Regions from separate parts of the Homo sapiens genome. Here regions 1, 3 and 4 are each linked to region 2. Evidence: fine-mapped expression QTL. A gene starts in region 2. Each other region holds a variant in brackets. All regions are shown on one strand. Distances are from middle to middle. Region 1 overlaps PRICKLE2 (prickle planar cell polarity protein 2). Region 2 holds the start of PRICKLE2 (prickle planar cell polarity protein 2). Region 3 has its middle 72 kb from the start of PRICKLE2-DT. Region 4 overlaps PRICKLE2 (prickle planar cell polarity protein 2).

Region 1 (7,914 bases), 57 kb after region 2:
AATTACCTCCTTAAAGGCCCTATCTATAAATATAGTCACACATAGGGGTTAGGGATTTGATATGTGAATCACAGGGGGTACACAATTCTGTTTATAACATAGACATTTATGAATTATGCATTAGACTGCTTCAAAGCCAAGAAATATAGAGCCTTCAGCCTGTGCCTCTCTCTTTGTTAGTTACACGATATCATTTGAGCCTCTTATTAATGCTTCAAGGTAGATATTATTGTCCCCAATTTACAGATGGAGATATTAACTTTCTACAAGAGATCAAATAACTTGCCCAACTACATGCAGATGGTAAGTGTTACATCCATTATTGGAACCCAAACAATCTGACTGCAGAGTCCAAACAAGTTACCCCTATAAGAAACTGCCATCCTTCTTTTTTCATACTTATGTATGTGTGTATTTTATCTAAAGGCAGTATTGAAACTGTTGTCAAATGAAGTTAGCAACTGTTGGGGAATTTTTAATAGGGCATATACGCAAATGCGTAGACAATCTGCAAAGGGTGTTTTGATAAAATTGGGATGAGGGAGTCTATTTAAGTGTAGCTTAAGTAGAAAATGTTCAAACCCCAAGTTCTTCCATTTCTGCAACCTTTTCTTTAACACAAGATAAAATAAATGTCAGATAATGCTCCAAACTAAATGGAATGTATTTTCTAACAAAACATTGAAGTTTAATATTCTAAATAAAATAATAAACAGGGTTGGAAAGAGTGGTCATGTGAGAACTAACAGGCATAGGAGCAAAGCAACTCATGTGATTCTGAATTATGGTACCGGCTTAGGGCATAACATAATTATTTTCCTTAGTTTGTTCAAACGAAGTTAACTCAACTTGAAAGAAATTCTCTGGCTTCAAATACAAATGGGTGTCGCTTTTGTCACTTCCTCTGAAATAAACAGTATATTGACAGTTATTCCATGCATCCTTTACTTAGCATCTCCACCCACCCCACAGCACTAATCTTTGGTGAAAAAAGCAAATGCTTTGATGGAATGAAAGAGAAGCTTAATGAGTTTTACTCTGTTTCCTCTTGAAATCTCGCTTGTTTATTCTCTTGCTGTATGTGTCTGTCTAGATCCTCTAATAACCCAGACAGCTAGAAAGGTAAGATTTGAATACAGCATGCATCCATTCAACAAACACTTATTGAGTATCTTGTACATGCCAGACCCTCTTCTGGGGGTATACAGCAAACACAGTCCTAAGTACTCACATTCTAGAGGGAAGAGAAAGTCAACAAACAAATAGATCATTTGTCAACAACTGATAAGTTCTTTGACAAAAAGCAGATGAAGAGTTTATCAGTTTCAGCACTGTTGGCATTTTGATGGGGATCTTTTGCTGTTGGGGCTGACCCATGTATTGTAGGAAGTTTGGCAGCGTCCCTGGCCTCTACCCACTATATGTGCCAAAGCAGCTCCCTCCCCAAGTTGCAATAACAAAAAATGTTTGTAGACATTGTCAAATATCTCTTGGGGGGTATTATTGCCCCCATTTGAGAAGTACTGGGTTGGAAGATAAGGGATAGAGGTGCTAATTTATTAGGATAGTCAAGGAAGGCAGCCAAGGTGGCCCTTGAGCAAAGACTGGAAGAAAGGAGGATGACACCATGTAAATATCTGGGGGAATAACCTTTCAGGCCGAGGGAATGGCTGGTGTAAAGGCCATGAGGTGAAAGGAACAGCAAGGAGGTCATTGTGAGCACAAGACCTGAACAAAAGGAATATGGTAAGAGACAGAGTCAGCCAGGTTGTAAGGAGTGGGGAGGTCATGGTGCTATAGTGAAGACTTTGGCTTTGCATTATAGAGGCATGGGAGATAATCCAGGGTTGTTGTTTTGGGGGTTTTGAGTTTTTTTGTTTTGTATTGTTTTGTTTTGTTTTTTTGAGATAGAATCTCACTCTGTCACCCAGGCTGGAGGGCAGTGGCGCATTCGCCACTCACTGCAGCCTCAACCTCCCAGACTCAAGTGATCCTCCCAGCTCAGCCTCCAGAGTAGCTGAGACCACAGGTGTGCACCACCACAGCCAGGCTGTTTTTTTTTTTTTTTTTTTTTTAATGTTTCTAGAGGCATGGTCTACCTTTGTTTCCCAGGCCAGTCTCGAACTCCTGGGCTCAAGCAATCATCCTCCCTTAGCCTCCCAAAGTGCTGGGATTGCAGGTATGAGCTACTGCACCCAGACCATCCAGGGTTTTGAGCAGAGCAGTGACACACCCTGGTTTATATTCCAATGGAGTTGTTATTGCTGCTGAATAGAGACTCGACTGCAGAGGCACAAAGGTGAAAGCCGGGTCCAGAAGTAGCCACAGCAATAGCTCAGGCGAGCACTTAGTCATAGCTAGACTGGTCCTGCAGGGGTGGTGGAAAATGACTGGATTCTGGATATGTTTTGAACCGACATCCAACAAGAATCACTGTTGAATTAGACATCAAGTGTGAACAAAAGAAAGGAGTCTTTGAAAGAGTCTTCTTTGAAAATACTGCAAATGAGCTTTTATTTCTGATTTTGATCCTAATCCTAGGGGAGTTCAACATGATGGAGACATTGTTTAGGCATTAGGCATTAGACTGTTGTTTCCTAAATTGCTTCCTGAGTAAACCAATTAAAATTATAATGTGGGTCTCCAGGAGAAAAGGGAAGGAGCCAAACTTGGTACAATTTCACCTCTTAAATGCCACTTAACGGCACTTTTCTCCTATTGCTTGGGTAATGAAATTCTGGCAAATAGGGGCAAAATGAACACAGGGGCCCTCATGAGCAGCCCATCCCTATTTACTCACAGCTGTAATGCTACCTGATGGTCCTCCAGGTCCCCATTTGGGAACCACTGTGTACTTTTTTAAAGACCACCACGTGCAGCAAATTCAGGCAGCATCTTTCCCTTCTCTGTACAACCTGCCTTCTGAGATGCTCAGGTGCATTTTAGATATTACCTCCCCGAATTGAGGTAGATTAAACAAGGTTCCAAGCTTCTCAAACTGCAGGTGAGGGGGCACGTGAAATAAAGGATCAGTGTTCGAATTAGTCCCTGGGTTAAGTTGGATTTTATAAAACCTTCCAAATGTATCAGCTCATGTCTGAGATTACACTTCAGGAGGGTTGGCCTTTACCTTGTGTTTGTGTTTGCCTTTTCCTTAAACTAGTGTTTCTCCTGGAGTGGTCTGAGGTGTTAAGAGTGCATAGTTCTGGCCTCCTTTTCAGACCCAGAGGGATGAAAATGGCCATCATCTTTAATAAAGGCCTCAGATGATTCTAAAGTATGCTACTGTTTGAAAACCACTGCTGTATCATTTAGGAATTGCATTCACTTCCTAGCAACAGAGACTGTAAATAAAGAAATAGCTTATTTCTCTCACTCAGAAGTTCAGAGAAACGCAATCCAGGGTTAGTCTGGTGGCTCCATGGTATAAAAATTTTAAAAATTTTTTGAAGTCCAGGCTCATAACTTTCCGTCCTACTATCCTCAGGTTACAGCTTCCATTCCCATTTGTAAGGTTACTTCATGACACAAGATGGCTGCTGGAGCTCTAGCCATTGTGTTTACATTCCAGACAGGAAGCAGGAAGAAGGGGGAATGGGCAAAAAAAGGTCTTGGCTAACAACTGTCTAGCCTCCTTTAAAAGAGCTTCCCAGAAGTCACACCCTTCCGTGTCATTGGCCAGAATGTGTAAGGCCACATGTAGCTACTAAGGAGCTGCAGAAATATTATTCTTAGCTGAGTATATTGATGCTCTCAGTCAAATGAGGGTATTGTTAAGGAAGAAAAAAAAAATGGATATGGCTGGGAAAACTCTGCCACAACTCTCTTACCATCATGCCATGGTGTTGTGGAAAGACTGTAATTTGGAGATTTTTCACTTACTGTCTGTTCATTTTGGCTTTATTTGGGAGCTGTGTGTTGGTTATGTTCTGGGTAATACCAAAGGAAAATGTGTTCATCGTTTCTGTGGTCAGCCA[C/T]GCAGACCTATTGGGAATCTACTGTATCTGGGTATGATTTGGTTTTTTCTTCCTTCTTTCCCATCCATCTGCCAGTCTCTTCAGTCTCTTTTTTTCTTGATAAAGGAGAACAGAAGGAGAGGATGGGGAAGTCAAGCTCAAAGGTGGCTCTCTCACTTTGTAACTATGTGATATTCAATCTGATGAGTATGAAATACCCACCTCCAGAGTGTGCAGAAGGTTTATGAAATACTGTGTATAAAAACGCGTCAAGCCGTAGGGTCACTCAGTAAGTCAATAGTTCGATGACCGCTTCCTTCATTCAGATCAGGCTTGTCCAACCCGTGGTCCACAGGCTGCATGCAGCCCAGGATGGCTTTGAATGCGGCCCAACAGAAATGCACAAACTTTCTTAAAACATTATGAGATTTTTTTTTTGCAATTTTTTAAAGCTCATCAGCTATCATTAGTGTTACTGTATTTTATGTGTGGCTCAAGACAATTCTTCTTCTTCCAGTGTGGCCCAGGGAAGCCAAAATATTGGGCCCCCTCCGCATCTAGATGGTGAAGAACAATTGATTCTGAAATCGGCCAAGAAAGTCTAACTTCTCCTTTGTGGGTTCCTGCTCTAAGAAAATAAGGATGCTTTTGATAAGGAAAATGTTGCCACCCAAAAATGTGAGCACTTTGCCCTTAGGATTTCTTGTTCTTGCCAGAGCTGGTAGAATCCCCTGCTGAATCATATATCTAGGTGTGGAAGGAGACACCTGAAAAATTGGGTGAGGTCCAACAAGTTCTCTTCCCTTTTCTGGGCTTCCTAGATCTCTTGAAGAAAGTGGGAATCCTACCATTTGCCTGGCAACTGCATAATGTTGGTTGTTGAGGGAAAACAGTAGAAAGCTCTAAAACTCACAAAGTGTGTTCCCTGGACTAACAGCAGGACCTGAAGAGGAGTCAGAAATGCAAATGTCCCCATCCCGGGCCTACTAAATTAGAAATCTGTGTTTTAACAGGCCTTCCAGGTGATTCTGATGCAAGCTATAGTTTGAGAACCAGTGCTCTAAATAAAGTGCTTTGCACACTTCTTTATAAAAAAAAAATCAGCTTACTTTTCATACACTTTTCTCCCAAATGCAGAGTTATTGCTTCTCCAGCCTCCATCTTTCTGCCCAGGCAGAAATGCTATCAAACGTGCAGTTCCTTCCAACAAGCCTCATCTTTCCAGCTGGGCGAGGCTTTGCTTTGTAGACTTTATATGCGCACTGACTAAAGTGCTTGCGATCTGTCTGACACACACTGAAGTTGCTGCCAAACCTTTCCTGTTGCAGAGTTACACCTTAAAGGCCTTTGGCTATTTCATTTTCATAAGCCAGTTTATTGTGTTCAAAATGCTTTTGTTTAGGGGAAAGTTACCTAGTATGATTTCACCTGGGGTGGAATCACAGGGCACCTTTATCTGGGAATGTCTAAATGGAGCAAAGTCTTTAGCACATTCAACAGACGTGCTTTTGAATAAATATGTTCAATACACACAGAATGAAAAATACAGTTATCAGCATAATGGGTAATAGCTTGGTAATGATCATCATTGACAAAATTCTATTGGATTTGCTTATTTACTCCAAAAAAAATGAACAAGTGAAACATGTTTGGACTAAAATGAACAATCTGCAGGATTTTCAGGGATTGTGCCAAATTTAATTTTTGTAGTGCCAGAAAGTATACTCAGTATTTTCCCATTACCCTTGGTTCACTTGATGTTTGTTTTGGGCCATACAGTAGTTTCACTGTGGAGAATGCCAGAGGAAAATGCAGGCAGCATTCCTGTATCCAGCCAAAGAATTCAGGAGAGCTGTTTCTCCCTCCCTCCCATCCATCCGTTAATCCCCTTTGCTCAGTGAAAAATTTGGAAAGTCCAGCATCTAAACACCAGGAGGCGACACAAAGCTAACATTAGAGGGATGCGTTTTTCTCCTGGACTTCAATGGACTTCGAAGAGGATTGGAAGTCCTGAAAGGACTAAATCATTCTCCTTCCTCAGAGCAAGCCACATCACCTACCATGTGATATGGGAGTGATTTGGTAGGTTGTTAATTAATATTAACTTATTTATTTTAGAAATGGGGCATCTTGCTACCTAGGTAAGTTCTTAAGTCATCCATCAAATTATTAGTTACCTTGTGAGAAGATATTCTAGCATATTGTATATTTGAGGAATTACTGGAATAATTTTGAGTGGTTATCAGTAGGCTTGAATTATAAAAGTTGACAAAAGATGTCCAGGAAAGATAGAGCTGTGTTCCCAAAGAGTAGTCACTGCCTCTGTTGACTTCAGAATTCAGTCTTTAGGATGGATCTCAGCACACCAAGGGACTTATTTACTCCTAAGTTTCTCCAGAGTCCTCCATCACTGCTGGCTGCACCTTCACTCAGTCATGTCATGTTGGGATTCATTTATTCTCCAGTTTTCAAAGTACTGAATGTCTCTAATCTCATTTCTGGGTGTGGACGCTGCCCAAGACAGGGTAATCAGGGTCCTTCTCTGGGGAATTTGGAATTGAGAAAAGCGAGTCACTCTAGGACAGACTCTTGAAGTGATGCTGTGCAAACTCAAGTGCTGTGGGAAACCTTAACCTTTGAGAAGGTGAGAAGCAGATCTGCAGGAAGAGAAGAGAGCAGAGGTAAGAGGACACTGGGCTCAGAGAGAACAGAAACTTGGTACAATCACCTTCCAGTGGCATATTCTATTTCCTCATGAGACCCTTTTATATACATGGCTAAGTTTCTAAAAACAAAAACAAAACAAAACACACACACACACACACACACACACACACACACACACACACACACACACACCTTTATAACAGTTTGCCATTTTTCCCCTGAAGTCAAACTAGCTTTAATACCATTGTATTCCTTGCAACGTATTTTTCTTGCTTTGACTAATATAAGTGGCTTCAGGGTTTGGTCTCACTCTACAAGCCAGCAGTGTTGCTGCCCATTCAAAAGTGGGCCTGATGGGGTGGCTCACACCCGTAATCCCAGCACTTTGGAAGGCCAAGGCAGGAGAATAGCTTGAGCCCAGGAGTTCAAGACCAACTTGGTCAACATAGCAAGACCCTGTCTCTCCAAAATATTTTAAAAATTAGCCAGGCATGGTGGCATGCGCTGGTAGTTCCTGCTACTCTGAGGTGGGAAGAGTGCTTAAGCCCAGGAGGTCAAGGCTACAGTGAGCCATGACCGCGCCACTGTACTCCAGCCTGGGTGACAGAGCAAGACCTAGTCCAGGAAGCATCTGGATTGTTCCATTTAGAGTAGGCCAGGCTTGATAGTATAACTATTGTCATGTATTCGTGTTATTTATTTTTATTAAGAGCCACATGCTTGTGCCTACACTCTCATTTAATCATCACAGTCTTATGATGAGTATTTTGAACAGCCACATAACTTGCTCAGGAACCCAGAGATGGGAAACAACAGAGCCTTGACTCGGGGTCCAGATCTACTGGCCATGCCCTAGAGGGTGCAGGGAAGATTCCAACTTGGGCCAGCCTTAGACAGTATCAGAAAGGGCTTGGTTCAAAGTACCAGTTAAGAAGGGCTCTCAGGCCTGACTGTGCTCTAGGCAATGGACAGGGGGTATGTGAGTAATTAGAGGTGATTAAGAGGAGGGTCGATGGAACCGCAACTAGACTCTGCATTTTCAAGCATCCATAGTAATTCATCTCATATTAGCAATTGTCCCTAATGTTCCATAACGACAATGGAAGTTGGGAGAATGACAAAGTAATGATGGAACAAGGCCTTTCTACAAGCAGTCTTCTGACTTGGGAGTCAGAAGCCCATTCCCCAAGACATGAGACTGGGCGTGCTTTTTTATACCTGGCCTTTGTCTGATGAGGCATATGGCACAGGGACTTTTCTGAGGATGGAATGCTGTGCAAGTCTCTAATAG
Region 2 (7,914 bases):
AAATCCATTCCTTCTTATTTTATACCTGTAGAAACAGAGATTTAAAACTTGTTCATTGCAGCCTTCCTCATTACAGCTCTTCATCTAGGAGGCTACCACCCTTCCTGTCACTTACCCTTCCCTTCTGTAACCTGACCAGTAGAGATGTACTTGACCTTTCCCTGTAATCCTCTAACAAGATGCTGCCTAAAGCTGGCTAGAATGGAAAGATGATTTGATTTTCCAGCATGCATGGAGCTGTCTCTTTGTTATTACCTGCCAGTGTCATGTTGCTGCTGTTTTGCTGTCTTGTGTCCATGCAGATGTCTCTTAATTATGCATTTGTGTTCATAATTTTCCTTCCTACTCATGTTCTTATTCCTGCCTGGAACACCTCTAGCAGAAGGTGAATTTGACTAAGGTCAAATTTTTGCAGCCTTTTTCTACTTCTGGATTTTGTGTCATGCTTAGTAAGGCCTTCCCCCACTATAAAATTGTTTTTTAATTCCAAAAAAGTAAAAGCGTTTTTGACCTTGGGCCTGACCCAGATCATACTTTTCCTGGTTCCTGATCACCTCTGCCATAATTAATTTTGTCTTCCTTGTCCTTTTTCCTATATACTATATGCAATTATGGTCATTTGTATAAATATCCTATCATTCTACCTAAACAGAAAGTTCTGAAGGTCGACAGTTGCATCCTTGTCTCCTGACAAGAGTGTCCTCCGCTTCACAAATCCCTAATAAACATTTGGTTGAGTTTCTCATATGTATTACCTGTTCTTCCCTGCCTTTACTCGCATGAAGTTTGCTGTCATGAATGTGGAATTTCACTGTTTTTTAGAAAAACAATATGAGTTTTGTTCCTATTTACTAAGTCTCTGAAATTTTTAAAGTAGTTTTTTCTCACTTTTTCTAATACCTACCAGTATAATTTGTAAAAAAAAAAACACCTCATTAGAATGGTCTCCAGGATGAAAATAATGACCACAGGGAATTAACAATCTGTGGATTTTGTAATTTTAATATTCTGTGTAAGTGTGATGCATAGATATCCAGCTTCCTCATCACCAAGCTGAGCTCACAGAGCGTGTGCTGGCAAAAGGACTTGGGCAGCATGCTTTTGTGCCATCCCTCTCTTGAATGCAATTAGGCCTTTGAGGACTCTGCATGCCTCCTGCCATAACACACACCCCATTCTACTCTAATTGCCTACTTAATTGTCTTCTCTCTGATTGCCAAGCTCTTTTAAGGCAGGATCCATGTGTATCTTGGTCACCATGTTGTCCCCAGACCCTAGCACAGTGACTGGCAAATAGTAGGAGCTTATTTAATGAGTGAATGGATATATGAATGAATGGGTGAAGCATGTATTCATCTCAAAAATATAGTTGTCTTGTCCTGGTGTATAGTTTCAGAAGAGGGAGCCCGCCTCTTGGTCATTTTTACTCCTTTATTTCCTAGATTCATAGCAGTTCAAAGCATTTGTATTGTATCATATGGAAAATGGCATATCAGTGGCTCACCCACATTAGATAGAACTTTGAGATATGCTCTAGGAATAAAGATGATTTTGCAGTCTTCCCTTTACCGCTTTCTCCCCACCTTTTGAATTTTAACTGGTTACTTAACTAATTTGCGCTGAAGTTAATGGTGGAAGCATGATTGTTTCTATTAATATTACCAATAGCTAACACTTATTGAGTGTTTGCTATGTAACAGGCTCAGTGTTAAATGATTCACATTAATGCTCATTGGATTCTCCCAATGGCCCCATGCAGGTAGGCACTATCATTATGCCCTAGGTTACATATAAGGACCTCAGGCCTCAAGTCATAGACCTAGCAAGTGTCACAGCCAGAGTCTGACCCCAGGCAATCCATTTTAGACTCCATGTTATGATGTTAATTCTTATGAAGTTGGTAGTGATGTGTCACATCTGTTCCAGGTGAAGAGTAATCTCTTGCTATGTTTCAGCTGTCTTCTTTATTTCATTGTTGATCACCTGTGAATTGCCTCTTATATGACCATGCTGATCATGAGTAGATGAGAGAGTAGTGTACCCATTTTTAAGAAACTGAGGCATGGAAAGTTGAAGTGACTTGTTCGTGGCCACACTGGGTTAGAATGTCACTGCTTCCACTTGGCTACTGGGGGCCCCAAACTGTTAGACTTGCTAATTGACTTTTTGAAGGATATTGAGGTCTGGGGAGACCATCTGCCTCCCTACACGCTCTGAGTTCTGTGTGATGGAAACTGAAGGCTGAGTGTTATTCATTTGCTTGTATTTTATTTCTCTTACTGAGAAGTTATTCCAGGTCTCATGATTTTCACCATGAAAGGTCTTCTGGGAACTAGAGAGAAGCATTCTGAAAGAAGTTATTAAGCATTATTAATACAATTACATACAACAAAAGACATAATTTAACTTCCCCACATCCAACAAAGAAATTCATTTGAAGCTTCAGGAACTGCAGCTGGAAGGGCAGAGCTCATCAGAGTGGGTTCCCCAGGCGGGGGAGTGTGGGCAAGGAGCCGTGCTAGCTGCTTTGTCCTTTGGGACACTTCTGTGCATGATGGAATATTCCTCCCTCCCAGCCTCCCCAACCTTTCCCTCACCCTTTACTTTCACTCACAGTGCTTCCTTATCACAGGCACAGAGTCCAGAATATTGCCTGGCTCTTGCCTCTCTCCTGGCCCGGGATACTGCACAGGCAGCATTGAAGGAATATATGATTTTAAACAATTAAAGATGACCATGGAAATACTCAGATGCTAGGAACAGTGATCAGCCTAGTAGATAGTATGCCTCGGTGAATTTTTCTAACTTCATTCAAAATATCAGAAATAGCTATTGAGTATGTGATATTGTGTTAATCTTCACCATAGTTCTATTCAATATTTTACTTTCTTTAATTGCAGTAGCCCATAAGGCCCTTGAAAGCAGAGACTGTGTTTATACCTAGCCTTTAGAGCTGTGCATGGCATAGAGTACGTGCTTAGTAAATATTTATTGAATGAGTGAATGGTACAGATGAGGTTATTGAAGATCCCACAAGTTAAGTTACTTGCCTAAGATCACACTGCTAGCAGGAAGGAAAGGCAGGATTTGAACACAGGGCTCTCCAAATGTATAGATTCCTTTCTTCCAGATTGCTTGGTTAGGCCGCCTAGTGGTGTATAAAAATGGAGCTCGGAGACCCCAAAGGTATTCAACAAAAGCTCTATCTGAGGTCTAGGAAATGTGGATTCTGACCCATCCTTGCTGAAATCCTGGTGTGACTTTAGAAAAGTCCTTTCTCCAGTTGTCTCCATTTTCTAATCTGTAAAATGAGGAGATGGAAGCAATGCTCTCTGAGGGTCTCAGGGTCTTCAGATGCCCTGGGAAGGTTTATGCTTTGTCTTCTTCTGCATGCAGTTGGAATTGGGGTAAGGGGTTAAAGGGCAGCTGACTGACTCACCACCCAAGCACGTGAGGAAAGGAGTCACTTGTGCTTTATTTCGAGGTGCACAAAAACTCAAAGGTGACATAGTCTCAGGCCAAAAAACAAGCAACACCCGAAAATGAAAGTTGAAGAGAGAAGAGAAAGAAAAAAAAAAAGGAGAGGCATTTTTGAAGGCTTGACACAGCATTTAATTAAAAAAAGAGTGCTCTGATTCCACTCCTAGGTTGGTGCAGCATATAATCTGAAACAGGCGCTCAGGTTGATAATTGTGCCCAGATCTGAACCTTGGCACCTAAGAGCACAGCTTTTAAGAAGAAAAAAAATAGGCATGTGTCTTTAAAGCCTCTCTTCTTATATGTGATTTTTTTCATGCTCATTTGGAGGTTACGTAGCTGGGCCTTTGCATCCAGCAAAGGCTTCCTTCCCCTCTCCCTGGCTTGGGGATTATTGATTTGGAAGGCAAGGCTAATTTACATGTAAATAAATCTCAGCACTGGGCAGCAGGATGGGACGTCCAGATGCCGTGACTGACTTGCTGACATCACAGCTTCATTAGCATGCGGAGGATGCAAGCACTGCAACAGCGACTTCTCAGGCACCACCAGCAGCGCCACCGAGAGTTATTATTATTTTTTGACCAAGCAGCACATTTCCTGGTTCAGTGGCTTGAGCTCTGTGAGCAGCTGACTAGTCACCCCGGGTCTGGCTCAGGATCAGCTGGTGACGCTGGGCTGGAGTCTATGACTTCTTCCTTCAGATTGTCATGAAGAAGGGGAGTTAAGAGGAAACTGGGGGTCCTCCGGAAGGCGATCTGAGCACTCAGGCTGATCTAGAGGAAGAGTAGAAGTCATACTTTTTTTCTCTTGCTTGGTGAATTCCCCAGCAGAGTCTGGATCCAGCAGTGCTGTTTTCCCTGAGGGAATGTGGAGCAGCTCGGCTTGAGTCTGTTGCCAGCTTCAGGAAGGGTTCAGACTGAAAAGGGGGTTTGAGGAGAAGATGCTTTGGCTGCCTGAGGTCCTGCTTGCGTTCTTAGAAGTCAGATCCAGGGAGAAAGTGAACTGGGACAATTGACAAGCTCCAAGGGTCTGGCAGAAGCTTCCTCCGAGACTGGGCATTTCATCCTCCCTGGAGGTGGGTAAGAAATTTGCTCTAATTCACAAATTAAACAGCAGTATATTTTCTAAGGAGGATGAGAAAGCCAGATCTAGGGCCTTTGCACTGGGGGAGGATATTGGGTCTTCGTTTTCTTGGCCAGGTAGCATTTTTGGTGGCCCTGCGACCCCTTTTGCCTTTTCTATGCTGATTAGAAAGCTCGATTACAAAGTGTTATGTCACAGCTCTAGGGAGTCCTGAAGAAACGCTTAAATCTTGATGCTTAAGAAGAAGCAGCGTTTCTCTAAAAGTGTAGCTTTCTTTAAAAAACCATAATAATATGGGGAAAGGGGCTAACAGACCAAATACCTGATAGCGTTCATGTACAGTAGTCATTTCAACACATGATGTCAGAAACCATTAGGGGATCTGAGGAACAAGGACTCAGCTGAGACTTCCAGGTAAAGAAATGGCTTTCAAATTATTTAGGTTTAATTTTAGACACTGCTTTCAGATTAGAAATGGTGACAGAGCTTCAGAATATGACTGCATAGCCTGGCTGAACACATGATTCGGTTTGCCCTCTATGCTGGGTTTCTTGAGGGAGTGATCATAGTTAGTTCTCCTCACTCTTGGCTTCTCGAAAACCAATCATAGCATTACTAATTTGCCATGGGGGTCTTGCAATGAAATACAGATTTTTAATCCCATGGTTTTTTGTTATGTGGTCTTGGACTATGCTGGGGTCCAGTGGGACTTTTATGAATCATAAATAATCCAGGCTGGGCCAAATCACACTGAGGTTAGCGATCCATACCAGATGTGATGCCATCCGCTGGTCCAAATGTGGCTCTTGTCTAACTTAGGCACATAGATTATTTCCCCAGTGAGAGAGTTCTGCTTCCCATATCAATGCATGTATGAGCACAGTCAGGGGAGGGCTCCAGTGTGCCATGAATATGTAGACATAGACTGCCGTGTACTGAATCTGCAGCTGGTAAGGCTGTGATTTGCTTTGCCTGCACATCTCTTCCCAAAGAGTGTTTTAAACCATCTCAGTGAGACTTAAACTAAATGAAGCAGCCTTGCCTCTTTGCTAGAGGCCAAATTGGCTGCTGTAATCCTGCTCCTCAGAAGGCTTACTGCCTGCTGATGGCTTTCACAGATGGGTCAGGATGAGGGTCCCCAAGGGCTCCAGAGTAAGTCACAACTTTGACATAATTACCATATTTTGGAAATTTGGATTTTAATGCCTTGAGTGCTTATAAAGGTTTTGCCTTTCCATCAAATGCTCCTTCCCCTTGGGAATTCTGTTTTTCATGTGAAAATTAAAACATACTGGCTCCATCGGGCATCTCAGTCTATAAAGATTCACGGGGCAGCCAGAAAGAGTAAAATAGCATTGTTTGAAATGGTGTGTTTATAAAGATTTACCCATGAAATGTGAGGGAATAAAATAGAAATAGAGGAAGAAAGATGCATTTATGGAAGCTTAAAGAATGAGAAGGGAACTTAGAGGTTAGATAGTATGAGATGATATTTATCCAGGGCTCAGACTCTGGAGCTGGAAAGAGCTGAAGATACTTAAAGCTACCCATTCCTGCCAGTAAAGTGGAGAGAGCAATGGAATCTATAGTTAGGGTGATAGGTGTAAGGATTTAATGAGATGACCTATGCAGAGCACAGTGGCAGCCACATAGTAAATATTCAGTAAATATTAGCTGCTATTGTTGTTGTTGTTGTTGTCATTGTTACCATTTTGTCATTATCATTATAAGTGTTGTTGCTAAAAAACAGTATTGAAAAGGCAACATGTTCACATCCATTTGCCTGCAGAAAGGTTTTGCTAGCAGAAAAGATGCCATCTCTGGTACTGTTATATCCAAATGATTCCCACTCAAAGAAACTTTCCACCCTATTGATTGAGTTGACAGAATAAAGTATATTATCCAGAACTACTGTATTTCACAGAACTGAAAGTGACCAGCTGGTATAATGAAAATCATTTAGAACTAACTGGGGCTTAGGCAGCCTTAAAGAAGGCATCCTGTTTTGGCAGCTGACAAGTCACATGTAGAAAGCTGCGGGGTCCCAGTTGGAATCAATGCATTTCTAGATTTCTCTTCTGCTTCACCTATGCATGTGAGAGACAGTCCTTTTCTTTCTTAATTCTTTTCAGTGCAGATATTGAGCATTTTCTTCTCTATCCAGGGAGGCCATTGAATATGTGCTTAACCTGCTGGTTGGCTCCTCAGAAGTTCCAAGGCTGAATTTTTGCCACCATCTGGGTGCCTTCAGCTTATGGGTTGGCTGCTAAGGGAAAGGAATAGCCCTCCCCTGCCTGCCTGCCTACCATGGCCCAGTCTGTCTGCTTTTGTTTTGTGTCACTGCTATGGCACAATTTTGCCAGGCTCGTGGTCTGCCTCCTTCATGCCGGTGGGCCTACTTCTGTCACACAAGTGGACTGCTGTTTCTCCCTTTCCTCCCAAGATCTTTCTTTTTAATTTTGGGGAATTAGAACTCTGACACAGGGATCTGAAAGACAAAAGTGAATTACAAGAGTGAGAGGAGTCTGCCATAAAATTCTTTCCCAAGAAACTCGGAACTGGGAGTTGGTCGTTCCTGGTTGCTACTGATCTTTAGTAGAGTTGTGTTTTGCACGGAGAATAATATTTATACCTTAACCACAGCCCACCTCCCTTACTTCCTGATGGGAGGTATGATCTCAGGAGAGTTGCCTGACCTCTCTGAACTTTGGCTTCCTCATATGAATATTGGAAATAAAGTCCCCTGAATGCATGGGATTGCTGTGAAGATAGCGGCTATAATGCCCTTGCCCAATTCCTGGTACTGACTGGATGTTGAGCATATTTCCCAGTTAATCCCGATCTGTGAACAACAGGGGGCAGTAATTTTAATATTTATTTAACGGAGAAACTGAAGGCCAATAGAATTAAATTAGAAATCAATAACAACAAGGTATTTGGGAAATCCAAGTAAAATGACATAGCAGATGACAAACCGTGGTACCCGTCTAGTGCTTCTTTTAATAAACATCAGTTCCAAACACTCTGAATTTGAGAAGGGCTCAATGACCCAACTGCACTGCCTGCCTCGAATTAGCAGAAACCTCTTTATTTAGTAGCCCCCAGGCTGTGGTCATTTCTTCTGTGCTGTCTGTAAGCACACAAGAGTCAAAAGGCTCTGTCCCTCAGATAGGAATTCTGGGTGGCAATTGGATAAAGACTTTCTTTTGTGCTTAAAGATCCACTGAAACCTTTCTCTGTTCATTCCCTCCATGACTGTGGTGCTTATAAACAGGGAACTGCTGGTGACCATGAGCTATTTGCAAACTAAGAAGCTTGAGGATGAGATATTGGCCAAATCTGTTTTCTTTG
Region 3 (7,914 bases), 150 kb before region 2:
CATATATACATGTGTATATACATATATACATGTGTGTATATATATATACACACACACACATAAAAATTGAGTGTTTGAGACAGGGTCTCACTATATTGCCCAGACTTCTCTTTTTTTTTTAAAAAAATTTCATTTTGTTTTTAATTGACAAATAATAACTGTATATATTCATGGGGTACAATGTAATGTTTTGATACATGTGTAGATTGTGCAATGATCAAATCAGGCAAATTAACATATCTGTGACCTCAAATATTTATTTTTTTAAGAACATTTAAAATTCTCTCTTAAATATTTTGAAATAATATTGTATTGCATTATTATTAACTACAGTCACCATGCTGTGCAATAGACCACCAAAGTTATTCTTCCTGTAAAAGTGAAACTTTATACCCTTTGACCAATGCCTCCCCCTTTCTCTGTCTGCTTCCCTCTGCCCCCAGCCTCTATTAACCACCATTCCACTCTCTACTTCTGGAAGTTTGACTTTTTTGAATTCCACATATAAGTGAGATCATACATTATTTGTCTCTTTGTGCCTGGCTTATTTCACTTAGCCTTTAGGTTCATCTGTGTTGTCACAAATGACAGAATTTCCTGCTTTTTAAAGACTAAATAGTATTTCCTTGTGCATGTGTATATATTACATTTTAAAAATCCATTTGTCTATTGGTGGATGCTTTGATTGCTTCCGTATCTTGGTTATTGTGAATAGTGCTACAGTGAACATGGGAGTGCAGACATCTCTTTGACATTTCAATTTCAATTCCTTTGGATGTACACCTAGAAGTGGGATTGCTGGATCATATGGGAATTCTATTTTTAGTATTTTTGAAGAAACTGCATACTGTTTCCAAAATGGCTAATTTACAATACTACCAACAGTGTATAAGAGTTCCCTTTTTTCATATACTTACTCATCAACACTTGATAGCTTTCATCTTTTTGATAATAGCCAATTTAATAGGTGTGAGGTGATAGATCATTGTGATTTTAATCTGCATTTTTCTGATGATATTGAGGATTTTTTCATATATCTGTTGGTCATTTGTATGTCTTCTTTGAGAAATGTCTATTCAGGTCCTTTGACCATTTTTGGATAGGGTTATTTGTTTTCTTGTTATTGAGTAGTTTGAGCACCTTGTAGTATATTTTGGGTATTAGCCCTTTATCCAATGTATGATTTGGCAAATACTTTCTCCTACTCTGTGGGTTGTTTCTTCACTCTGTCGTTTCCTTTACTTTGCAGAAGCTTTTTAGTTTGATGCAATCCCATTTGTCTATTTTGCTTTTGTTGTCTGTGCCTTTGGGGTCATATCTAAGAAATCACTGCCCGGACCAATGTCATGGAGCTGTTCCCCTATGTTTTCTTCTAATAGTTTTACAGTTTTAGGTCTTACATTTAAGTCTTTGATCTATTTTGAGTTAATTTTTTATAAGTGGTGAGATAAGGATCCAGTTTTATTTTTCTGCATGTGGATATCCAGTTTTATCAACACTTATTCCTTTCCCCATTGTCTGCTGTTCTTGGCATCTTTGTTGAAAATTAATTGACTATAAATTTGCTGGTTTATTTCTGAGCTATACATCCTATCGCATTGGTTGATGTACCTTCTTATATGAGTACCATGCTGTTTTGATTACTATAGCTTTGTAATATACTTTGAAATTTGGTAATATGATGCCTCCAGCTTTTTTCTTTTGGTACAAGATGCCTTTGACTATTCAGGATCTTTTGTGGTTCTATATGAATTTTAGGATTGTTTTTTCTATTTCTGTGAAGAATGACATTGACATTTTTGGCACAGATTACATTGAATCTGTAGATTGCTTTGGGTAGTATGTACGTCTTAACAATATTCTTCCAATTTATGAACACACGATATACTCCTATTTATTTGTGTCATCTTTAATTTTTTCCATTGAGGTTTAATAGTTTTCAGTATACAGACCTTTCACCTCCTTAGTTAAATGTACTCCTAAGTTTTGTTTGATGCTATTATAAATAGAATTTTCTTAATTTATTTTTCAGATAGTCTGTTATTAGTGTATAGAGATGTTACTAATTTTTGTAAGTTGATTTTGTATCCTGTAACTTTACTGAGTTCTTTTATCAGTTCTAATAGTTTTTTGGTGGTGTCTTTAGACTTTCTATATATAAGATCATGTCATCAGCAGAAAGAGACAATTTCACTTCTTCTTTTCCTGTTTGGAAGTCTTCTATTTCTTTCTCTTCCCTGATTGTTCTGGCTAGGACTTCCAGTACTATGCTGTCTTTTTGCTTTTGATGGTGGTGGTGATGATAGTGATTGTCATGATGGTGGTAGCTGTAATGAGGGTGGAGGTGGGATGGAGGAAGTTATAATAATAATGGTAGTTATAATGATATTGGTAATAGTGATAGTGGCAGGATGGTGGTTAATATTTTTTGAGTACTTTCTCAGTTCCAGACCTTGCTCTAAGCAGTTATATCTGATGTCTAGTCCTTCTGCTTTGGGCAGAAACCCAAGATTGTTCCTTCCTGGATTGTTCCTTTTTCTCACACATTCCGTAAGACTCTCAGCAAGCTTGGATCAGCTCTGCTTTCAAAACCCAGCTCTATCTTACCTGTGTGGACATGTCCTTTGCTATCACCATAGGTCCAACTACCTCCCTCTTTTACTTTCTTTCTGATAGTGACCTTCTCCCTGGCCTCCCTGCTTCCAGTCTGGCCTCTTATAATCCATTCACACCACAGGCAGTGTGATGTTCTAAAATTATATATCCCCCTTCTACTCAGAACCTTCTGAATGGCTTCCCTTCAAGCTGACAATAAAATCTAAGACCTTATGACCATGGTCTTTAGTCCCCAAATTCCCATTTTACCAGCCTCATGGCCTTCCACTCTCCCCATTGTGTGTTCTGCTGTTGTCAGATATGATCCTTGAGTACACCACATCTTCCAGTTGTGGCTCCTGCCGTTCACATCTTAGCATGGTGTGTTCCCTTGTTTCATTTAGGCTTTCCTCAAATTAGACTTCCTCAAAGAGGACTTCCCTGATCACCCTCTATTAAATAGCAGCCTGCCCTCCCTCATCCCTCACCTTCTATCTATCTCATTTACCCCATTAATAATTTCTTCACAGCACTTAACACTCAGCCATCATATTGTAAAGTTTAATAATATATTAGATCTAGCAGAAAATGTGTCCCTTCTAGAATAAAACTTTGTAAGGACGGGACCTCTCTGAATTATTCATCTTTGTATAATTTTGGTTTAGAACAGTGTCTGGCTCATATTATGGCCTTCCATCATAAGTCTTGGTGGAAAGAATTAACAAAATGGGAGCTTATATGATAAAAAATAACTCTAAGAGTTATAGTTTCCTTTTACAGATGAGGAAACTGAAGCTTAGAAAGATAAATTATGCCCTAGACTTCTGAGAACAAAGCTAAGCACTTCAATTTTTCTGAGAAGCTGATTGTATAGAATCTTGGGTTTATAACTCATTTGAACTTCTCATTCAGAGCTCCAACCCTGGCAGGCCTAACATAATGTTTGCCCAACTATTAAATATATAATCCTTGGCATTTGTTGTGTGCAAGGTATTTTAGATAATTAATTGATGAGGCATTTCTGTCTTATTATGTTTTTTGCTTCAGTAACAGAATAACAGAAGCTGGGTAATATATAATGAGCAGAAATTTATTGGCTCCCATTTCTGGAGCTGAGAAGTTCAAGATCAAGTAAGCAGTGCCTGGCAAAGGCCTTCTTTCTTTGTTATTCCATGATGGAGGGTGGAATGGCAGGAGAGTACTAAAGGAGAGAGACAGAGAAAGAAAGAGATAAAGGGGGCCAAACTCCCCCTTTTATAATGAACCCACTCCTACAATATTGGCATTAATTATTCACTTCACTATCATGGCCTAATCACCTCTCATTAGGCCCTATACCCCAACAGTATCGCATTGAGGATTAAGTTTCCAGTGCATATTTTTGGGGTGCATATTCAAATTATAGTAATTAGTATTCTTTATTTTTTATTTCTTGTAGAGATGAGGTCTAGAACTCCTGGCCTCAAGTGATCCTTCCACTTTGGTCTCCCACAGTGCTGGGATTACATGTGTGAGCCACTGTGTGCAGCACGGCAATTACTATTAAGTCACAGCGAATTTACTGGGATGATATATATATATTTGGCAATGGCATGTTTTAAGTTTTCATTGTATTTTTAACCACTTTGTTGAGATGTAATTCATGTCGTACAGTTTACCAATTTAAATTATATAATTCAATTTTTTTTAGTATATTCACACAGTTGTGCAACTGTCACTACAATTTTAGAATAATTTTATTACCGCTGAAAGAAACCTCCTAATACACAGTAGCAGCTGCTTTCCATTTCACCCTAACTCAAAGCACTGCCCTAGACAACTTCTAATCTACTTTCTGTCTACAGGTTTGCCTTTTCTGATCATTTCTTACAAGTGGAATCATATAATATGTGTTTTTTTTGTGTTTGATTACTTTTAGCAAAATATTTTCAGGATTCTTCTATGTTGTAGCATGTATCAGTACTCCATTCCTATTTATGGTTGAATAATACTCCATTGTATACATATACCACATTTTGTTTATTCACTCATCATTTGATGGACATTTAGATTGTTTTCACATTTTGGCTATTATGAGTAATGTTGTTATGAATATTTGTGTACATATTTTTATGTGGACATGTTTTCAATTCTCTTAGGAATAGACCTAGGGGTAGAATTGCTGGATCTGGCCAGACGCAGTGGCTCACACCTGTAATCCCAGCACTTTGGGAGGCCAAGGCAGGCAGATCACTTGAGGTCAGAAGTTCAAGATCAGCCTGGCAAACATGGTGAAAACCTATCTCTACCAAAAATACAAAAATTAGCCCGGCATGGTGGCACGTGCCTATAGTCCCAGCTACTCAGGAGGCTGAGACACAAGAATGGCTTGGACCCAGGATGTGGAGGTTGCTGTGAGCCAAGAG[T/C]GCACCACTGTACCCGAGCCTGGGCAACAGAGTGAGACTCTGGAAAAAAAAAAAAAAAGAAGAATTGCTAGACCATAAGATAATTCTATCCTTAAGACAGAGGAAGCACCAAACTGTTTTCCAAAGTTGCTGCACCATTTTATATTCTCACCAGCAATGTAACGAGGATTACAGTTTCTCCACATCCTTTTCAACACTTGTTATTATCTGTCTTTTTTTTTTTTTTACTGTATCCCTTTGAGTGTGTGTGCAAGTGAGTTCATTTTTGCATTCCCTTTTTTAACAGAGAAGGTGGGTCCTCAGATCTGTCAGCAGAGAGATTATAGGGTTTAAGGAGAATTTTGACTTTTATTGTATTTTTTTTTATAACAAGTCACTTTCCTGTTACTTTGCCATTTTAAGTTGAGGGCATTAACTTTTTTTAAACAGCTTCTTTGAGATATAATTTACATTCTACACAATTCAGTCATTTAAAGTGTATAATTCAATGCCTTTAATATATTCAGAGTTATATATCCCTCACGGCAATTCTCAAGTATTTTTGTTACTTCAAGAGGAAACCGTGTAACCTTTAACCGTCATCTCCCCCATCCCTCTCCCCCACAGCCCTAGGCAACCGCTAATCTAGTTTCTATCTATAGATTTGCCTGTTCTGGACATTTCATGTAGTTTTTGTAAATGGTCAGTGTCCATTTATAACAATATATATTGTTTTTTCTATGGGAATATAAAGTTTCCTTTTAAAATAAATGTATTATGCTGAGCACGGTGGCTCACCCCTGTAATCCCAGCACTTTGGGAGATGGAGGTAGCAGATCATGAGGTCAGGAGTTTGAGACTAGCCTGGCCAACATGGTGAAACCTCCTCTACTAAAAATATAAAAATTAGCTGGGTGTGGTGGCAGGTGCCTGTTATACCAGCTACTCTGGAGTCTGAGGCAGAAGAATTGGTTGAACCTGGGAGGCGGAGGTTGCAGTGAGCCGAGATAGTGCTACAGCACTCCACCCTGGGTGACAAAGCAAGACTCCGTCTTGAAAAAAAATAAAATAAATGTATTACAATAAAAATTTAATAAGCTTAAACAATAGTAAATACAAATAACAAAGGTGATGTGTATAGACAAGGTTGAAATTGCTACAGTGATTGGTGGTGGGCTACAAGCAGAAGAGATAGCCTCATGGTTGAATGCAAATGGCCAGGATTTGAGAAATGGTAGTTGATAGATCTTGGTCTAGACTGGTCAAGGAAAAGACTTCATCTTCAGACTAGAATGGAGGGAGCCTTGAGTGCCTACTAGGCCCACACATCCTCATTGCCAAAGAACATCTGCCTCTCGGGAGCTGTGTGACCTTATATACATCAGTGTCTCCATTTGCCGATCTAGCCAAATGGGTATGGGTAATAGCAAGATCTACTTCATAGAGCTGTCATAAGGAATAGGTGATTAACATGTGAAGAGCATTTAGCATACTGCCTGACACAAACCAAGTGCTCGCTGAGTGTTAGCTGCTAGCCAATTTCAATCACAGCCAAGGGGAAGCTCTGATCCCTCCCCATGTTCCATCCCATCCCAATTTGATCTCGCAGTCCTGTCTTCTCTCTGCCCATGCTGCTCACCTTTCCAAACAGAGAGTTCTGCTAGAAAAGTACCCCCTTCTGAGAGTGAGGAAAAGCTTTCTTCAGTGGAGAGTATTTGAGTAGCTGCATTGTCCTGCTGAAACATGCCGGCCAGCTTTCAAGCCAGAAACACATTGCCCTTAACCAAGTTTACAAAACCACAGGTTACCTCTTTATGTTTTGGCAAACTGCATCAAATCAAACCCTGAAAGCCAAATTCCATGGGGGAAGAGCGCCTTCGTTATCAGTTTACCAAGGAACCCTTGGACAAGTACACATGTCCTTGTACCCCAGCGTTTGGAACACATCAGTAGACCAGACGCATGATAAATATTTTTTACAAAACCATTCTACAAGCAAGTCGGGATTTAAAAAATGCATTTGTAAAGTGTTTTTCTTCAGTTGGATCAACCATATGTTAAAGTAAGCTTCACCGATGGCAACAGTTTTCATCTGAGGCTTATTTTAGCTTAATAAAAGAGTGTGTGGGTGGTAAGCAGAACCTTGTGCAGAGCTGCTAGAAAATCGCGACTAATGGCTTTTGCCTTTCTGCCTTGTTGATCTAAGATGGCTTGATTTTTGCCTGGGTTGTGGATGGGTGAAGCCAAGTCACCATTTCTGCAGGACTTAAGCTAGGCTCTGGAGAAGCACTCCTTTGGGCACGTGCAGAATGCCCTTGGATATCGGTCCGTCTAATTGCATGTAATTGCTACATTGGCCTCTTCTCTGTTTCTGGAACATCAAGGTTGTTCCAGCCTCAGAGCCCTTGCACTTGCTGACTCTCTTGCCCAGCTGACCATTCCCCTGGCCCTTCACATGGCAGGTGTTTTTAAACCTTCAGGTCTTCTGCTCATACCTCTACCCCACCTCAAGTGCTCTGCCATCTCACTGTTTCCTTTATTACACTTGCCCCCCACCTGAAATTACCTTGCTCATTTGTTTGTTTCCATGTCTGTTGTCCATCTCCCTCTTAGAATGGAAGCTCCATGAAGTCAAAGTCTTCATCTGTCTGATGTGAGGTCATATGGGCAGCACTCAGCTCAGTACCTAGTACACAGTAGGCACTCCTTAAACATCTGCTGAATTTCAATGTATAACTTGGACTTCAAATACAAAGTTTCATAAGTAATGAGATAGGACATGAAGCTTTAAAATAAGTCTTGAGCTAGAAAGGCTGCTTAAATACTTTAAACGCCTGTGTGCTGAACTTTTCAGTGTTTCCTCTTCCCTAGCTCTCCCCTTGATACAACTTGACACCATAAAAAGTCAGGCAGGGAGGGTGACAGTGACTATTGA
Region 4 (7,296 bases), 130 kb after region 2:
GGAAATAATTTCAGACTTAAAAAAAGTTATAAAAATAGAACAAACAACACCTGTAATGTACTCTTTACGTAGATTGATCCATTGTTAACCTTTTGCCACATTTGTTCTTTCATGTTCACATGCATGCACACACACGCACACACACACACATTTTATTTATAAACCATTTGAGAGCAAATTGCATCCATCTGGGCCATTTACCACCATATCCTTCCATATATATTTCCCAAGAGTAAAGATCTTCTCCCACATTATCACCATTATTAATTGACCACAGTAAATTTAGCATAATACTTTTATCTATTGCCCATGTTCCATTTTTTTTTCAGTTGACCAAAAGTTATCCTTTATAGAGGCAGTCCCCAACCTTTTTGGCACCAGGGACCGGTTTTATGGAAGATAATTTTTCCACAGACTGGGGCCAGGGGGTGGGGATGGCTTTGGGATGGTTCAAGTGCATTACATTTATTATGTACTTTATTTCTATTATTACTACATTGTAATATATACTGAAATAATTACACAACTCACTTTAAGGTAGAGTCAGTGGGAGACCTGAGCTTGTTTTCCTGCAACTAGACAGTCCCATCTAGGGGTAATGGGAGACAGTTATGGATCATCAGGCATGAGATTCTCGTAAGGAGCACACAACCTAGATCCTGCATGAGCAGTTCACAACAGGGTTTACACTCCTATGAGAGTCTAATGCTGCTGCTGATCTGTCAGGAGGCAGAGGTCAGGCAGTAGTTGGAGCAATGGGGAGTGGCTGTACATGCAGATGAAGCTTCCCTTACTGACCACTCACCTCCTTCTGTGTGGCCCTGCTCCTAACCAGTCTGTAGCCTGAGGTCTGGGAACCCCTACTTTATAGCATTTAGTTTCCCTAAAGAGCAGGTTCCAGTCCAGGATCAGGTATTATATGTAATTGCCATGTTTCCCTCGTACCCTTTCATCTAGAACATTCTCTCAGTCTTGTCTGGTCTTAAGACTACAGTCCCTTTTTTCATAACAAATGTCCCTCCTTTTGGCATCTGTCTAATGTTTCCTCCTGAATGCATTCGGGTAATACATTCTTGACTGGAATACTACATAAGGGATAGTGTGCCCTTCTGAGTACATCTCAACTGGAGGCATGCAGGGTGCAGTTGCATCTCACCAGGGATGTTAAGTTTGAACTTAAGGTCAAGGTGTTGTCTGATTTTACCTTTGTTTAGTTACTAATTCTTCCCTTGCAACTAATAAGCAATGTGTAGGGAAACACTTTAAAACAATGCTCTCCCCCATCAAATTTTACCCCCTAAATTTAGCACACTTTTTGATTCTTGTGTGAAGCACTCTACCTCCAATGGTTATAAAATGACTTTCCAAATCTGGCACCCCCTTCCTTCTTGTGAACTTACTCTACTGACAGCGGTTGGCATTCCACTATACATAGAGCCCTCTCTTTTCCCTGTTTGTGTATTTATTTATGTTTTTATTTATCTGCTATCAGCATGGACTTGTGAATTCCTATTTGTTTCAGTGGTTTATAAATCATTACTTCACTTAAATATTTGAGTGCTCAAATTGTTCAGATTTGGCCAGTGGGGGCCCCTTCAAGTTAGGCCCTGTGTCCTTCTGACAAACCCCTGCCATATCTTATTTTTAATACTTTCTCACTTTATGGCATAACAAGATCCTGGTTCTTTTAATTTCCTTGCCTTTATCCTGGAATTGGCCATCTTTCTAAAGAGCCTGGATTCCTTTTAGTGGGGAATGGTAGAAAAAACCACAATATATTTATCCATTTTCCTGATAATTGACATTTGAGTTGTTTCCGTTTCTGGGCTATTACAAGAAAGCTTCTCTGAGTACCCTTGTCCATTTCTTGGACCTTCTTACTAACTTCTGATGAATATATAATCAAGAGTGAAGATGGAGAATTGTGGAATTTCTACTCTTGGTCGTACACCCAACAGAAATTCATAAGTCCACAAAAAATGGCCAAGGATATTCAGAGCGGCTTTATTTATAATTCATATACGTATATGTGTATTTAGCTTTAGTAAATATTGCCAAGTAATTTTGCAAAGTGCTCGTAACACTGCTTTAGGTTTTGTCACGGAAGAGGAAGTTGGAGGCCCCAGTAGGAGACAGGAATAATCAGTAGCAGGGGTGATAATGGGCCATTGCAATCCAAAGGCATGTTGTCTATGACCAGGAATGGCAAATTGCTGATCCTTGCAATATGTAATGAGTGGAAAATGCTGAGACTTTGCCACCTGGCCCATTCTTAAACATCTCCTTAGAGAGCTCTGCCTGAAAATGAGCAAAATGGAAGTTACTGCAGTCAGTATCTCCCACTACCTTCAAAATGGTTTTCATCTCAGGGATGCCAAGAGCTCATTTGACAGCAGTTAAGAAATGGAGGTCCATTGCTGGGGCACCCACTGTTTGAGAGCATCAAACCCACTGCTTTACTTTTGAAAGTCCCTCCCCGTGCGACCGAGAGGTCCCTTGGGGTCCCACACACATCTTCTGGCTGCTAGAGACCCATTTACAACCTTGGAGCATTCACTGAATGGTCTGAGAGAGTAAATATTTCTCTATCTATATCTAGGGAGTCACTTAGTGTCCAAGACACTTTTGATAGGGAGCCACCTGCCACTTAGGGACAGCAGGCAAAGCAGGAAACTGCTGCGGGCTAACAGAGAAGTGAACTGGCCCAATATTGTGGAACCAGTGTTTGGTATTGCCAGAAACAGCTTGGGCATGATCCAGCCTCTAGAGCTTAAAGTTTGCTCATCCAAAATATCTGTCCTACAGAGCTTATAGTGCATGATTAGAATCAAAAATGTAATTAAAGTACTTTGCAAAGTGAAACTCCAAATAGAGGAAGCATCATACATAGGATACACAGTGGGCTCTTAGTAACTTTGATGAGCCTTTGGAGGAACTAGTAACTGGTAAAATACATCTCTGGAAGCATTTTAAGTAAGTGCCCCCTCTAGGTAGATAGTGACCTACTGTGGAGTGGAGAGAACCCCCTCACAGGCACATGTGCCCCCTGAGAGGGCCTTTGTGCAGTACACAACTTCACAACGGTATATAATGACCCTAGATAGATGACCAGCAGTGACAGTGATACCCATTGCTGCACATCTGTATTAATCTCTGTGGTCCCCTCCTCTCTTCCCCAGGCCTCTCTGCTGATGGTGGTGCCAAGCGCCAGGAGCACCTATCCCGATTTTCCATGCCTGACCTCAGCAAAGACTCTGGAATGAATGTGTCTGAGAAGCTGAGCAACATGGGCACTCTTAACTCGTCCATGCAGTTCCGGAGCGCAGAGTCAGTTCGCAGCCTGCTCTCTGCCCAGCAGTACCAGGAGATGGAGGGAAACCTCCACCAGCTCAGCAACCCCATTGGCTACAGAGACCTGCAGTCCCACGGAAGGATGCATCAGAGCTTTGATTTTGATGGAGGGATGGCGGGCAGCAAGCTGCCAGGGCAGGAGGGCGTGAGGATCCAGCCCATGAGTGAACGCACCCGGAGAAGAGCTACTTCACGCGACGACAACCGCCGTTTCCGACCTCACAGGTCCAGGCGTTCCCGACGCTCTCGCTCCGACAACGCCCTCCACCTGGCCAGCGAACGCGAGGCCATCTCCCGGTTAAAAGATAGGCCCCCTCTGAGAGCCAGGGAGGACTATGACCAATTTATGCGCCAGCGGAGCTTCCAGGAGAGCATGGGGCATGGGTCCCGGAGGGACCTGTACGGCCAGTGCCCTAGGACTGTGTCGGACCTGGCTTTGCAGAATGCCTTTGGGGACCGCTGGGGACCCTACTTCGCCGAGTATGATTGGTGTTCCACCTGCTCCTCCTCTTCAGAGTCTGACAACGAGGGCTATTTCCTAGGAGAACCCATCCCCCAGCCAGCGCGCCTGCGATACGTCACAAGCGATGAGCTGCTGCACAAATACAGCTCCTACGGCCTCCCCAAATCTTCCACATTAGGTGGCAGAGGACAGTTGCACAGCAGGAAAAGACAGAAGAGCAAAAACTGTATCATTTCTTAATATGATTGGGATCAGGGAATGGGAGAAGATGGGAGCTAAGAATGTAAAGTCAGAAACTTGCACTGTTTTAAATGTTAAAGCGCTTTTGGGGGTGGCTTATGGGGGAGAAAAGGGAAAATGCTGTCAGTAGATGGAGGCAAGGTTACAGGTTGACTCAATAGGTAGTCACAGTTCTTGGCATGTTGAATATTATTTGCACATTTCACTTTGGAAACACAGTAGACTCTATCGAGGCCAGGCTTGGTCACTTCCTTCCCATCAGTTCTGTGTTGAGTTGCCATCTCTCAAGATGGTAAATTGTTTCCTGCTCGCTTTTATCCTCTCTGGTTCTCTTACTTTTAGGACCCTTTTTTCAGTAAGTAATTTGTTTATTAGCCAGGACCCAAGACTAAGTTATTTACATGTCCATTGTAAATGCAATGTAAATGAGAGTTCTGATAAAATATTTTTGTATTTTGTAATATCAAAGGAATTTCTATATCGTAGGACTCAGTGGGGACTTGCATGCACATCCACCATTGTCTCTGAGTAGTATTGAAATGTGGCCCGGTACCACCTTTTTTTTTTTTTTTTTTTTTTCTATACAAATTTGTTACATGTCAGTGAGACCTTTTTCAAAGGAACATATTCAATTTGGCTTTTTGTGGCTGAAAAAACATAACTGTTAGACCCAAAGCATTTTATGCTCCGTTCCATCTTAAGGAGCCATCCTTAAGTCTGCTCCCACCCTCAGTAGAATTTATTTTCTACAAAGTGGTAGTAATTTTTTTTTAAATTGCAAATGTAATTTTTGCCAATTAGAGAAACCAACCGGTGTCAGTAAAATTCTGTGAGAAATGCCATCCCTGCTGGGAATGTTGAAGTTACTTAATGTTGATCTATCCCTTGGGGAAAGTAAAAGTGACTGTGAGTGGTGCCATTGTGTGATGTCAGCATGACGTTGTTTTGAATGTGGCATTATGTTCTGGTGCTCATGTTTCCTGGATTGTATTATCTGCTTTCCTTTACCAAGGCAGACAGAACTGCTGCCTTAGCCTGACAACCGGTTGTCCTCAAAGCAAATGAACTTAAGCATTTGGGATTGAGGGACAGAAGGATTCTGAGGGGGCTCTGCGAGGGACGGTGTGTGACATGTCATGCCTGGAGAAGGAACAAGGCTATTTGAAAACAGAAGGCAGGTCAAGGGTAGAAGTTAAAGGAGAATCTGAAGGCAGGTCAGGGAAAAGAAGAACTGGAAATGAAACAGAGGACAGGTGACAACCACCTCGAAGAGCTCCCAGAGATTGTAGAAAGAGTCCAGTGTAACCAG[C/T]TTAGTAACCAGAGTATCTGGATTACCCAGGAAGGTTGAGCTGCTGAGATTTCAGTGGTGCAATGTCTTTAAAAAAACAGGCTTTGTTGGGAGGGTATTTCCATTTTGAACTTTGAGGACTGTTGGTCAGAAAATGGGCTCAAAAGTGAGTTTGCTTAATGAAGACATTTAACGGTTGTGCTGTTTATAGTAAAATAAAACTCCCTACCTTGCTTCAGTTAAAAATGAAGCACTTGGTTTCTTCCATCCTCCTCCTCCCCTTAATGGATTGTGGCAGTTGAAATAATCCATCGGATGACCCACCTGTAGTGAGATGTACTGTCGATGTAGTGCCCGGTGTATCTCAGTGGCCATCTGCCATGGTGAGGTGAGCGTGATCTCTTTTCAGTATAGTAGTTAACATTTTCTAGTATTTTTTATGGAGAGAATGTCAAAAGTGGCATTTCAGACCCCGTCCCAGATGGGTCTGAGGAAAGGAAGGCTGTAAAGGACATGGTAATGGCACTCCATTCGGGATGTATTAAAATAATTTGCTTTTCAGGTATTAATATGACATTTGTCATTGTCACTGATTTTTTTAAAAAAGCAATGCACATGTTGGTTGTGGCTGTTTTCCGCATGCTATCTTCATATCTAAATGCTTCATTAATTATCCGAGCCTCCGGAGAATTAACTCTATTACGTTTGTATAGTAAGTTTGTAAACTGCTTGGCAAACTGATTAAGAAATAATTTGCAATACCGTGCTACTAAAGTGGCAGGTTTCTGGTAGAAATTGTGCGAGTCCAATTTGGAGTTTTAAGTTCCTTGATTGATGAAACTAAAAAGGCAATTTTGGAAAAAGAGAGGGGGAAAAGTAGATCACTTATCTTAGCAAACGGTTGAAAATATGTCTGTCCTCTGTGGCCCCAAATCCAGTGAAAGAAATTCTCCCAGTAAAAGTTGCTTCCTAACTCTGTTTTTCTCAGAATACCTCTTACCTTTCTCAAAGAAAGCTTCAACCACCATCATCAGAAAGAAGGTGGCCTAAAAACTGACACATGGCCAGTGCCCGGAGGGGTCTGGAGGCATAAGTCTAGATGCCCAGAGAGCATCCAGGCACTGAACTGCTCAGAGCTTGAGATGAAATGACATACAAGCTTCAGGGTAAAACTGTCTACTAGCAAGATTACCTCCCTCAATTCTACCATTGCAGATTTCTTCTGACCCCAAATGCAACCTTACAGAGAATGCTGAATGAGGAAGGCCAATTCCTTACAATGATGGCAGAACCCCCAAGCGAATGCCCTATTGAGGAGAAGGACATCACTGTATTTGGAATTCTGCCTGCTAGTGATAGCTCACACATCACATCCCAGAATCCCACTCCCAATGCATTATTTCCTGAGGCAAGAACTTAAGGTCCTCACCTAATTCCTCCATCACAACCATTAACTCTTATTGGACAAGCTCCTCCTGTGAGTAGGGCCTGTACTCACTTCCTCTTAGATCATAATTCCATCTTCAAGAGACTGATTTCCAGAATAGTAATCTTTTTCCAGCGTTCTCTCTTCTCCAATGCCCTGGTTGTTATTTTTCCCACCTCTCCTAATATTGATCTTCTTGTCTTTTGGTTAGAACTGCAACTTCGGAGTTGAGTTCATTTCCTATTGCTGCTCAATTCAGTAGCAACATAGCTGGCTTGTTCCCAGACCCAGGAAGTATAAGTCATTGACAGTTTCCTGAGTGGCTCTGCCAATCCATACCACCCTTGGTACTGTGAAAAGGCTTCTTGGCAGCCAGGTGGCATTGAGGATGGTATTCAGGGCGCTTTCCTTCTGTCATATAGTTGTGGGATCTCTACCAAGTGTGAAGGTGAATGAGGTAAGGGAGATCAGAACCATGCTTCCTGGTTTTTCATACATCCAAGGAAGAAGTCCTGGTGTGGGTTGTTT

What was found. PIP is the estimated chance that this variant, and not a neighbour inherited with it, causes the effect.
Region 1: its variant is the best candidate, but not a certain one, in a credible set for the expression of PRICKLE2 in testis (GTEx, PIP 0.71).
Region 3: its variant is the best candidate, but not a certain one, in a credible set for the expression of PRICKLE2 in stomach (GTEx, PIP 0.54).
Region 4: its variant is the best candidate, but not a certain one, in a credible set for the expression of PRICKLE2 in sun-exposed skin (GTEx, PIP 0.78).

Annotation. Positions count from the first base shown.
Region 1 is chr3:64,164,865-64,172,778 of GRCh38, reverse strand. All of the region lies in intron 2 of PRICKLE2 (prickle planar cell polarity protein 2), which reads left to right. Among named protein-coding and RNA genes, the nearest start is that of PRICKLE2-AS3, 19 kb to the left of the region's middle. The variant C/T (reference allele first, on the strand shown) is at 3,978.
Region 2 is chr3:64,221,551-64,229,464 of GRCh38, reverse strand. PRICKLE2 (prickle planar cell polarity protein 2) reads left to right here and starts at 3,999. Exons shown (of 8, transcript NM_198859.4): 1 at 3,999-4,555. RefSeq lists a silencer at 3,818-4,112.
Region 3 is chr3:64,369,637-64,377,550 of GRCh38, reverse strand. No RefSeq gene overlaps it. Among named protein-coding and RNA genes, the nearest start is that of PRICKLE2-DT, 72 kb to the left of the region's middle. The variant T/C (reference allele first, on the strand shown) is at 5,001.
Region 4 is chr3:64,095,809-64,103,104 of GRCh38, reverse strand. PRICKLE2 (prickle planar cell polarity protein 2) reads left to right here. Exons shown (of 8, transcript NM_198859.4): 8 at 3,180-7,296. The coding sequence ends at 4,054. It overlaps PRICKLE2-AS1 (PRICKLE2 antisense RNA 1), which reads right to left. Exons shown (of 3, transcript NR_045697.1): 3 at 1-6,182. Among named protein-coding and RNA genes, the nearest start is that of PRICKLE2-AS2, 4.0 kb to the left of the region's middle. The variant C/T (reference allele first, on the strand shown) is at 5,364.